Homo sapiens: one gene and its partners. The protein of the gene in region 1 purifies or fractionates together with the protein of each later gene. This does not show direct contact. Each region holds a gene or a part of one and is shown in the gene's direction. Other genes may lie near its edges.

Region 1 (4,096 bases):
AGCTAAAGAAACAAAATCCCAGAGGGGCAGGAAGGGCAGATATCAAGAATGCAAGTAGAGAAATTCTTAACTTATTTTTCAGAGAGAGGACAATGAATTTGAGAATTTGTATTGGAGAAAAGAGGGAGAGAAGTTAGGTGGAGGAACTCCTAGATAAGGCTTCAATCAGTGAATTCATCTGCAGAGCAGAAGTTTCTGCGGAACTCAAACTGCCTGGGGGCATTCCTTGAAAAGAAGAATTCTGCACTTTTTGGTGGGAACCTGCCGGTGGAACATCCTGTTTAGAAATGAGGACATCCAAGGAACACTGCAATGTGCAGAGACTAGAAGGAAAAAACAGTCAAGTAGCCATTTCTCCTGGGGAGTCTCTAGTAACTTGATTTTGTGCTTCTTCTTGTTTTTTGAGACAAGAGTCTCACTCTGTCGCCCAGGCTGGAGTGCAATGGTACGATCTCGGCTCACTGCAACCTCCACCTCCCGAGTTCAAGCAATTCTCCTGTCTCAGCCTCCCGAGTAGCTGGGACTACAGGTGCAAGTCACCACACCTGGCTAATTTTTGTAATTTTTAAATTATTATTTATTTTTATTTTTTTGAGGCGGAGTCTCGCTCTGTCGCCCAGGCTGGAGTGCAGTGGCGCCATCTCGGCTCACTGCAAGCTCTGCCTCCCGGGTTCACGCCATCCTCCTGCCTCAGCCTCCCGAGTAGCCGGGACTACAGGCGCCCAGCACCACGTCCGGCTAGTTTTTTGTATTTTTCTTTTTTAGTAGAGACGGGGTTTCACCGTGTTAGCCAGGATGGTCTCGATCTCCTGACCTCGTGATCCGCCCGCCTCGGCCTCCCAAAGTGCTGGGATTACAGGCGGAGCCACCGCGCCCGGCCAATTTTTGTAGTTTTAGTACAGACGGGGTTTCACCATACTGGTCAGGCTGGTCTCGAACTCCTGACCTCAGGTGATCCACACACCTCGGCCTCCGAAAGTGCTAGGATTACAGTCGTGAACCACCGCGCTTGGCCGCAACTTGATTTTTAAATTGCTCTCTGAGTGTAGATTCCTTGTTTGTTTGGCAAGGGTTCTTGCCGCTGCCGCTACAGCTTGAAGCCAAACATTTAATGAAAGAGAGCGGGAGGGGCCGAATAGAAGAATGATGGGCGTGGCCAACCCCGAGGTGGCTGGAGGCCGCGCCCCCTTCCCAGAGTGCACCGCAGCCGCTGCATTCAGGAACCGCTTTAGCTTCGCCCCCGGCCGGCCGGGCGGGGAAGACTGGTGTGGTCTGGCCATGGATGGGCTCCAGGCCAGTGCAGGGCCGTTGAGGCGCGGGCGGCCGAAGCGCCGGCGCAAGCCCCAGCCACACAGCGGGTCGGTCCTGGCCCTGCCCTTGAGGTCCAGGAAGATACGAAAGCAGCTGCGAAGTGTTGTATCCCGCATGGCAGCGCTGAGGACGCAGACGCTGCCTAGCGAGAACTCGGAGGAATCGAGGGTGGAGTCGACGGCCGACGACCTGGGGGACGCGCTACCCGGTGGGGCGGCGGTGGCGGCCGTCCCGGACGCAGCCCGGCGAGAGCCATACGGCCACCTGGGGCCCGCAGAGCTGCTGGAGGCCTCGCCCGCCGCGCGCTCCCTGCAGACCCCGTCGGCGCGCCTGGTGCCCGCTTCCGCGCCGCCCGCGCGCCTGGTGGAGGTGCCCGCCGCGCCGGTCCGGGTGGTGGAGACCTCGGCCCTGCTGTGCACCGCGCAACACTTAGCGGCCGTCCAGTCGTCCGGGGCCCCTGCGACGGCGTCGGGGCCGCAGGTGGATAACACGGGTGGGGAGCCGGCCTGGGACTCCCCGCTGCGGCGCGTCTTGGCCGAGCTGAACCGCATCCCCAGCAGCCGGCGGCGAGCGGCCCGCCTCTTTGAGTGGCTCATCGCGCCCATGCCGCCAGATCACTTTTACCGGCGCCTATGGGAGCGCGAGGCGGTGCTGGTGCGGCGGCAGGACCACACCTACTACCAGGGACTTTTCTCTACCGCTGACCTGGATTCGATGCTGCGCAACGAGGAGGTGCAGTTCGGCCAGCATTTGGACGCCGCTCGCTACATCAACGGACGACGCGAGACCCTGAACCCACCCGGCCGCGCGCTGCCCGCCGCCGCGTGGTCCCTGTACCAGGCCGGCTGCTCCCTGCGTCTCCTCTGTCCGCAGGCTTTCTCTACTACTGTGTGGCAGTTTTTGGCTGTGCTTCAAGAGCAGTTTGGAAGCATGGCAGGCTCCAACGTTTACCTCACGCCCCCTAACTCGCAGGGCTTTGCCCCCCACTACGACGACATCGAGGCCTTCGTGCTGCAGCTGGAAGGTAGGAAACTCTGGCGTGTATACCGACCCCGAGTCCCAACCGAGGAACTGGCTCTGACATCCAGCCCCAACTTCAGTCAGGACGACCTCGGTGAGCCGGTGCTGCAGACCGTGCTGGAACCTGGAGATTTGCTGTATTTTCCTCGGGGCTTCATTCACCAAGCTGAATGCCAGGATGGAGTCCACTCTCTGCACCTCACCTTGTCCACGTACCAGCGCAATACCTGGGGTGACTTCTTAGAGGCCATACTGCCTCTGGCAGTGCAGGCTGCAATGGAAGAAAATGTGGAGTTTCGGAGGGGTCTGCCCCGAGACTTCATGGATTACATGGGGGCCCAGCATTCAGATTCTAAGGATCCGCGAAGAACCGCTTTCATGGAGAAGGTGCGGGTCTTGGTTGCCCGCCTGGGACACTTTGCTCCTGTTGATGCTGTGGCCGACCAGCGAGCCAAAGACTTCATTCACGATTCTCTGCCCCCTGTTTTGACTGATAGGGAGAGGGCACTAAGTGTTTACGGGCTTCCAATTCGCTGGGAGGCTGGAGAACCTGTAAACGTGGGGGCCCAGTTGACAACAGAAACAGAAGTCCATATGCTTCAGGATGGGATAGCTCGGCTGGTGGGTGAGGGGGGCCATTTGTTTCTCTATTACACAGTGGAAAACTCCCGTGTGTATCATCTGGAAGAACCCAAGTGCTTGGAAATATACCCCCAGCAAGCTGATGCCATGGAACTGTTGCTTGGTTCTTATCCAGAGTTTGTGAGAGTGGGGGACCTGCCCTGTGACAGTGTGGAGGACCAGCTGTCCTTGGCAACCACGTTGTATGATAAGGGGCTGCTGCTCACTAAGATGCCTCTAGCCCTAAATTAGTTTCTTGTTGATTGCTGGAAACAAGGCAGTAGTGATTCTCCGCTGCCACTGCTACCTTTTTTTTTTTTTTTTCCTTAAACTCACGTTCTTACCTTGATAAGCATCAGTGTGCTCACATTTACCTTTATCACTGCTTCAGTGTCACAAACCTCGGAAGGTCTTCTAGGAAGAACCATCTCATCTAGGTACAAAAGGAAAAGGAGAAGTTGGAGGTGGAAAAAAAACCCTTGATCCGTGATCATTTCAGAGCACCAACTTCATCACCTTCAGGCTTCAGTGTACTGGGTAACACTGACCATGTCGTTCTGCTTGAGACAGATATTAGATTTTTTTTGGAATTTGGATCTTTCATCTGAGTTCTTTTTCATGGGCGGGTCGGGGTCAGTATCCTGTTTGTTATTGTTAAATTTGTATGAACCTTAGAAAAGTTATTAAAGTGCCAAAGAATGTTTCCCTTTCCTAAGGCTAGATTATTATGTGGGATGGTTCGAAGAAATGCAGGAGCGGGAGGAAGATAGGGAAAATCTATAATGGCTGAAGTGAAAAGCAACCTGGGGTGGTTGTAGCATGTAAAAGGAGCATGTTAATCAACCTCTTAAGGAAGAGACTCTCAGGCTGGGTGCGGTACTCATGCCTGTAATCCTAGCACTTTAGGAGGCCGAGGCGGGTGGATCACCTGAGGTCAGCAGTTTGAGACCAGCCTGGCCAACATGGCAAAACCCCATCTCTAGTGAGAATACAAAAATTAGCCAGGCATAGTGGTGCGTGCCTGTAATCCCAGCTACTAGGGGGGCTGAGGCAGGAGGATCACTTGAACCTGGGAGGTGGAGGTTGCAGTGAGCTGAGATCATGCCACTGCATTCCAGCCTGGGCAACAGAGCGAGACTCCGTC
Region 2 (3,647 bases), on another chromosome or scaffold:
CTCAGGAGTTCTAAATCAACCTGGGCAACATGGCAAGACCCCATCTATACAAAAAAAAATACAGAAATTAGCCAGGCACGGTGGTGCACGCCTGTAGTGCCAGCTACTTGGGAGGATCACCTGGGCCTGGGAGGTCAAGGCTCCAGTGAGCTATGATAGTGCCACTGCACTCTAGCCTGGGTGACAGAGTGAGACCCTGTCTCAAAAAGAAAAAGAGAAACCAAAAAGAAGGCAATCCAGGCCAGGTGCAGTGGCTTACGCCTCTAATCCCAACACTTTGGGAGGCCGAGGTGGGCAGATCACCTGAGGTCGGTAGTTCGAGACCAGCCTGACCAGCATGGAGAAACCCTGTCGCTACTAAAAATACAAAATTAGCCAGGCGTGGTGGCGCACACCTGTAATCCCAGCTACTCGGGAGGCCGAGGCAGGAGAATCACTTGAACCCGGGAGGCGGAGGTTGCAGTGAGCCGAGATCACGCCATTGCGCTCTAGCCTGAGAACAAGAGTGAGACTCCATCTCAAAAAAAAAAAAAAAAGAAGGCAATTGGCGGCCCCCGGCCAGCTGGGTGGGTGGCTGCAGGAATCTGGGGTCCCCAGCACCCTCTGTGACTCCCACCCTGTGGACCTCCTAGTGTGCAAGATGACCTGCCACAAGAAGTGCGTGCACAAGATTCAGAGCCACTGCTCCTACACCTACGGGAGGAAGGTGAGTGTACGAGGCCTGGAACTTTCTACAATGACACTCCACTCACGGCCAGGTGCACCAGGAGGTGGTGCTTGATGTGAGGGCCAAGCGAAGCATTGAGCAGCCAGTAGGGGGCGGCTGTGGCCTCTGGTTCTGCAGAACACACCATTGTCCCCGGTTCTGTACAAACTCCTTGAGGCCCTCAGGCAGGGCCCAGGCCTGTGTGTGTGTCTCAGCTCCCCCAGCCCTGCTCATCCTTGCTCCTGAGAGAGTCCTGAGCCATGCAGAGGGAGGCCCCCCAACTCTGTGCATAAGGTTGGGGTCCTGGGTGCTGGGGGTGCAGCAAGAGTCAGGGTCTACTTCTGTGAGGTGGCTGTGGGGGCTAGGTTATAGCTCTCTCCCCACGAAGGACCACCCATGCCTTGGGTGGCCTACAAAGGAAGCCCCTGCCCAGTGGCTGCCATGCTGGCCTTGACTTCTGCAGCCCCACACCCCCAACAACCACGCAGAAGGAGACAGGGAGGGACAGAACAGCAGAGGAAGCCCTGAGGGCCTTGTGCGGGACCAGGAGGCAGAGGCCCCCAGAGACAGCTGGAGAGGAAGACAGCCAGGCCCAGACCTGACCCCCAACCCCGGCACTGCAGGGCGAGCCAGGCGTTGAGCCTGGCCACTTCGGCGTGTGCGTAGACAGCCTGACCAGCGACAAGGCCTCGGTGCCCATCGTGCTGGAGAAGCTCCTGGAACACGTGGAGATGCACGGCCTGTACACCGAGGGCCTCTACCGCAAGTCGGGTGCTGCCAACCGCACTCGGGAGCTCCGGCAGGCGCTGCAGACAGGTGGGCGCTGTGGGCAGGTGGGTGCAGTGCCAGGCCCCAGGCACAGCCGTCCTGCCAGTGCGCCGCTCACCAGACCCACCCCACCCACCCCACAGACCCCGCAGCAGTCAAGCTGGAGAACTTCCCCATCCACGCCATCACAGGGGTGCTGAAGCAGTGGCTGCGGGAGCTGCCCGAGCCCCTCATGACCTTCGCACAGTACGGCGACTTCCTCCGAGCCGTCGGTGAGCCCCATGGCGGTGCGGGTGGCAGCAGGTGGCCACAGCCAGGATACAGCGTTCGCTGTGACCAGCCCAGGAGGCAGGACCACCCAGTTCACAAACTGAGAAACTGAGGCCCAAAGCAGTCGGCCCAGCCAAACCGGGTCCCCAGTTTGGGGTGGGGCCAGGACACCTCTGTAGCCATCCATTCTTGCCTGGGCACCACAGGGTGGATGGCACCTGTGCATCTCAGGTCGTGTTGGTGGGGACAACAGGCACCTTGGGGACCCTTGGGAGCTGACGTCCTCAAACCCCACTGCCTGCAGAGCTGCCGGAGAAGCAGGAGCAGCTGGCTGCCATCTATGCCGTCCTGGAGCACCTTCCAGAAGCCAACCACAACTCCCTGGAGAGACTCATCTTCCACCTTGTCAAGCAAGTGCCTCCCCACCTGCCCTCTGTGGGGTTAGGGTCGCATTGGGAACCCGCGAGGCAGCATTTCCCAGGAGGACCCGAGCTGGCGTTCTGTGGTGGTTTCGAACCAGGATGCAGACCACTGTTGGGGGTTCTGGGAGGGGGCCAGGCTGCTGGGCCGCCCGGGTCCCTTGAGGTACCTCTCTGTGCTGCGGAAGCATCTCCCAGTGCTGGGCTGTGGCACTGCTTTCCCAACAGCCACCCCAGGGCTCAGAAGTTCAGTCTCGGGGCTCCCTGGTACCTCCCTCCCTCGGCCCTAGCCATCCTCTAACTGCCAGTGGCTGTGCAGGGTGGCCCTGCTCGAGGATGTCAACCGCATGTCACCTGGGGCGCTGGCCATTATCTTCGCACCCTGCCTCCTGCGCTGCCCTGACAACTCGGACCCGCTGACCAGCATGAAGGACGTCCTCAAGATCACCACGTGAGTGCCCACCCTGCCCCGGAGGCATGCTCAGGGCAGCCCCACCCAGGACCCCACGACAGCTCCATCCATCCCTGTGTAAATAAATGTGTAAGAAAAGTCCAGAGCCGAGTGCAGCGGTTCACACCTGTAATCCTAGCTACTTTGGGAGGCCAAGGCAAGAGGATCACTTGAGGCCAGGAGTTCGAGACCAGCCTGGGCAACATAGCAAGACCCTACAAAAAATTTGAAATTGGAAATTTGTATTTAAATATAAAAATTTAAATTTCCAAATTTAAATTTTTAAATTCAAATTTTTATTTAAATATAAAAATTTAAATTTTTGTCTCTACAAAAAATTTAAAAATTAGGCCAGGCGTGGTGGCTCACACCTGTAATCCCAGCACTTTGGGAGGGCGAGGTGGGTGGATCACTTGAAGCCAGGAGTTTGAGACCAGCCTGACCAACATGGTGAGACCCCATCTCTATTAAAAATACAAAAATTAGGCTGGACGAGGTGGCTCACGCCTGTAATCCAGCACTTTGGGAGACCGAGACGGGCAGATGACCTGCGGTCGGGAGTTCGAGACGAGCCTGACCAACATGGAGAAATCCTGTCTCTACTAAAAATGCAAAATTAGCCGGGCGTGGTGGCGCATGCCTGTAATCCCAGCTACTTGGGAGGCTGAGGCAGGAGAATCACTTGAATCCAGGAGGCGGAGGTTGCAGTGAGCTGAGATCATGCCATTGCACTCCAGCCTGGGCAACAAAAGCGAAACTCTATCTCAAAAAAAAAAAACAAAATACAAAAATTAGCCAGGCCTGGTGGCATGTGCCTATAATGCCAGCTACTGGGAGGTGGAGGCTACATTGAGCTGAGATCGCACCACTGCACTCCAGCTGGGCAACAGAGTGAGACTCCGTCTCAAAAAGAAAATTTAAAAAAATAAAAAATATATATATAAACTAGCCAGGTGTGGTGGCAGGCGCCTGTAATCCCAGCTACTCGGGAGGCTGAGGCAGGATAATTGCTTGAACCCAGGAGGTGGAGGTT
Region 3 (3,647 bases), on another chromosome or scaffold:
TCTAGCATGTTCCCATGTCGGTCTTCCAACCTGTTAGAATTACAGGCCTGAGCCACTTTGCCTGCCACACACCCTTTTTAAAAAGCATTGCTGGATTTTCCCTTTGCACAGGGTGAAATCAAATCATTGATGAATGAGCATCAACCTACTAGGCCAATGAGAATCTGAGCTAAGTGTCCCTACCTGGGTGACCCGTGTGGTATATACTCCCAGAATTGAATACTAACTCCTGTGTCTGCCTTTATTTTTTCCTGTGTCTTGTTTCTTACTTTAACGGGGAATGAACTAAGATCAAATACAAAGTGATTTCTAGGAACATGAAACCACTTTCTTTTTTAGAGACAGGATCTCACTATGTTGCCCAGGCTGTTATCAAACACTTGGGCTCAAGTGATCCTCCCACCTCCGCCTCTGCCTCCTGAGCAGCAGCAGGCGCCCTCTGGCAAAACCACTTTTAATTCCAGAATTTCAGGCTCCCTTTTCTCTATCATATCTGTGTGCTTTTTCAATAAAAATTAATTTGCTTCTAATTGAAAACTAAAAATTGTATATATTTATGGCATATAGCATAATATGCTTTGTAGTATTACAAACATTGTTAAATGGCTAAATTGAGCTAATATTCATATGCCCTACCTCATGTACTAACCATTTTTGGTTTTGAGAATACTTGAAATCTAATTTTTTTTAAGCAGTTTCCAAGTATACAATACATTGTTATGAACTGAAGTCACCATGTTGGACAATTGCTCTTTTGAATTGATTTCTTCAATTGAAATTTGTACTCTTTGACCTATATCTTCCCAACCCCTACCCCAGCCCTGGTAACTATTCTACTCACTACTACTATGAGTTCCACTGGGTTTTTAATTATTATTTATGTTATTTACTTCTTTTTAAATTTTTTTTTGTAATTTGAACTTGTGTTTTAGATTCAGTGGGTACCTGTGCAGATTTGTTGCATGAGTATATTGAGTGATGCTGAGGTGTGAGGTATGACTCTACCCATCACCCAGGATATGAGGATAGTACCCAATAGGTAGTTTTTCAACCCTCCCTCCCTCTATCCCTCCAGAGTTTCACTGTTTTGGAGTCCACGTCCTGATTTCCTTTCCTCTGTGTACCTGCCCCGGAGCGGGATTGCCGGATCATGCAGTTGTTGGACTTTCAATTTTCTGAGGAGCTTCTATACTGTCTCCCATATCGGCTGCTCTAATTTACATCCCAGCACAGGGCGCAGAGGACCCCTTTCCCCCAAATCCTCACCAACACTCGTTCCATGTGTCTTTTTGGGAACAGCCACTCTAGCAGGCGTGAGGGGTGCCTTGTGGTTTGGATTTGCATGTCCCTGATGATGAGTGATAATGAGCACCTTTTCCTAGACCTGCTGGCCATTCACATGTCTTCATCTGAGATGTCCACACAGGCGCCTTAAGCCCTTCTAGTGGGTTATGTGTTTTCTCGCTCTGGAGGAGTTTGAGTTGCTTATGTTTTGCACAGGAGCCCCGTGAGATGTGTGGTGTGTAAATATTGTCTCCTCCTCTGGGTTGTCTCCCGCCTCTGCCGATTGTCTCCCTGGCTGTCTCTCTGTTCTGCACTTGCTCAAAGTCCTTCCAGGAAGTGTGGGGCACTCGCCCTCCAGGCTACCAGTGACTTTTCCCAAGACCCTTCTGCCAGTTTTTTCTCCCCTCTGCAGACCTTCAGGTTGCTTCCCCCACCTGTGTCTAGGAAAGCAGGGCTGTGTTCTCATAGCTGTTGAACTTGGACGATAATTGATGCCTGGAGAGTATCACTCAGTGGCTCCTGCCTAATGAAGCTAGGTTTAGGAATTAATTTTTAAAAATCTTATTATTGTATCAACCCACTTCTTTAAAATATCAAAGAGCACTAGACTTTAAATCCATTTTCTGAGATGAGATTAGGAATACAGAAACCCTTAGAGACAGAAGGTAGATTAGTGATTGCTAGGGGCTGGGGTGGGTGGGCAGGGGGTGATCACTGATGGGGATGGGGTTGCTTTTGGGTTGATGAGATAATTCTGGAAGTAAACAGTGGTAATGGTTGTACAACATGGTGCATGTCTTAGTCCCATAAAATCGTGAACTTGAAGAGAGTAAAAAATGATGAAATTTATGAATGTACATTTTACCAAAATAACAAAATATCTGTGTAGGTGCTTAATCCTCATAGGATCCTTTAATGCTGTCCCTTCCCTGGAGCAAGTAAATGTTCTGGAGTTAACAAGAATATGTGTTGGGGAAAATATTACATTCTAACTCTTTTTCTCTATCCTTTTGCATAATTATGACTAAGGGCTTTGCCTTGGATCTTGTCCTGATGGGGAAACATAAAGGGCTTACTTTATTGTTGCATCACATTTTCAGAGCTTCACCTAACTATCTTATTTAATTTATAGTCAAGAACAATGTTGTTCCAATTGACAGGAAAACTGATTCAGCCTCTGCACAGTGATTTCCTAGAGATCAGAATCCAGGGGTCATTAAGATTTTAAACCAGAGTATGTAGTCAGGTATAGACACTGGAAGATTTCCACTGTGCTGAATTCGATGCTGCTGAAGAAGTGGCATCCAGGATGAGGGATTTCGAAGGGAGGGATGGATGGAGTAGTAACTTAAACTAATGAGGCTCATACTTTTCCCCCCCAGACTTCTGAATGAACAGTGAATCTATTACTGAGGAAAACCAGAGGAAGCCTGTGTAGATAGGTATCAATTAGATACCAGCTACTGGAAGAGCTTTCTCAGAGACTGATTAAAAAATTCTCCACTAGATATGGCTGCAAATTGCACATCCTCATGGAGTCTAGGAGAATCCTGCAACAGACCTGGGTTGGAGCTGCCACGGTCTATGGCATCCTCAGAAACTCAACTTGGAAATCACGACGTGGACCCTGAGATTTCTCACGTGAACTTCAGGATGTTCAGCTGCCCGAAGGAGTCGGACCCCATCCAGGCTCTGAGGAAACTCACTGAGCTGTGCCATCTGTGGCTGAGGCCCGACCTCCACACCAAAGAGCAGATCCTGGACATGCTGGTGATGGAGCAGTTCATGATCTCCATGCCCCAGGAGCTCCAGGTCTTAGTCATGATGAACGGTGTGCAGAGCTGCAAAGACCTGGAGGACCTGCTACGAAATAACAGAAGACCCAAGAAATGGGTGAGTGGGACCCTCGTGATTGGTGCAGGGAAGGGGAGCTGGGATGGGGGCTGCACGGTGCAGCTGGACTCGAGAGGACCCGAGGGGCTGCTCTAGGTCAGGGCTTCCAAGTAGAGGAGAGTTTGCCCGTCGGGGACACATGGCAGTGTCTGGGGACAGTTTTTGTTGTCAGGGAGGACAGGAGACGCTGCTAAGCGTTCTCTAACGCTCAGGACAACCCATCATGACAAATAATCATCCAGATTCCAATATCAGCTGTGCTGAGACGGCAAGTTCCTGGTGTAGGAGATGGACAGGCAGAGGGGGTACAGGGACCCACACACTGTGTGAGGCCAACATGAAAGAAAGACATTGGTGAAATATTAGGCCTGATGGAATGTAGGGAAGGAGGCATTAGAGTGAACTGAAGGGGGGCCCAGGAGTCCCATCCTGAAGCAGGGAAAGTGGTTGGTATCAGATGCAGGGATCTG

What was found.
Region 2: the proteins of RIOX1 (region 1) and MYO9B purify together in Homo sapiens (affinity purification with mass spectrometry; one large-scale study listed by BioGRID and IntAct). This does not show direct contact.
Region 3: the proteins of RIOX1 (region 1) and ZSCAN5A purify together in Homo sapiens (co-immunoprecipitation; one large-scale study listed by IntAct). This does not show direct contact.

The regions. Positions count from the first base shown.
Region 1 is NC_000014.9:73,489,740-73,493,835, forward strand, and holds RIOX1 (ribosomal oxygenase 1), read left to right. Parts: upstream 1-1,193; 5' UTR 1,194-1,278; coding exon 1,279-3,204; 3' UTR 3,205-3,326; coding exon of another isoform or gene 3,327-3,385; 3' UTR 3,386-3,655; downstream 3,656-4,096. Other genes in the region: HEATR4 (HEAT repeat-containing protein 4), read right to left, coding at 3,327-3,385. UniProt on the Homo sapiens protein: Oxygenase that can act as both a histone lysine demethylase and a ribosomal histidine hydroxylase. Specifically demethylates 'Lys-4' (H3K4me) and 'Lys-36' (H3K36me) of histone H3, thereby playing a central role in histone code.
Region 2 is NC_000019.10:17,204,631-17,208,277, forward strand, and holds part of MYO9B (unconventional myosin-IXb), read left to right. Parts: intron 1-632; coding exon 633-706; intron 707-1,329; coding exon 1,330-1,522; intron 1,523-1,617; coding exon 1,618-1,746; intron 1,747-2,048; coding exon 2,049-2,154; intron 2,155-2,482; coding exon 2,483-2,614; intron 2,615-3,647. UniProt on the Homo sapiens protein: Myosins are actin-based motor molecules with ATPase activity. Unconventional myosins serve in intracellular movements. Binds actin with high affinity both in the absence and presence of ATP and its mechanochemical activity is inhibited by calcium ions.
Region 3 is NC_000019.10:56,224,193-56,227,839, reverse strand, and holds part of ZSCAN5A (zinc finger and SCAN domain-containing protein 5A), read left to right. Parts: intron 1-2,666; 5' UTR 2,667-2,793; coding exon 2,794-3,177; intron 3,178-3,647.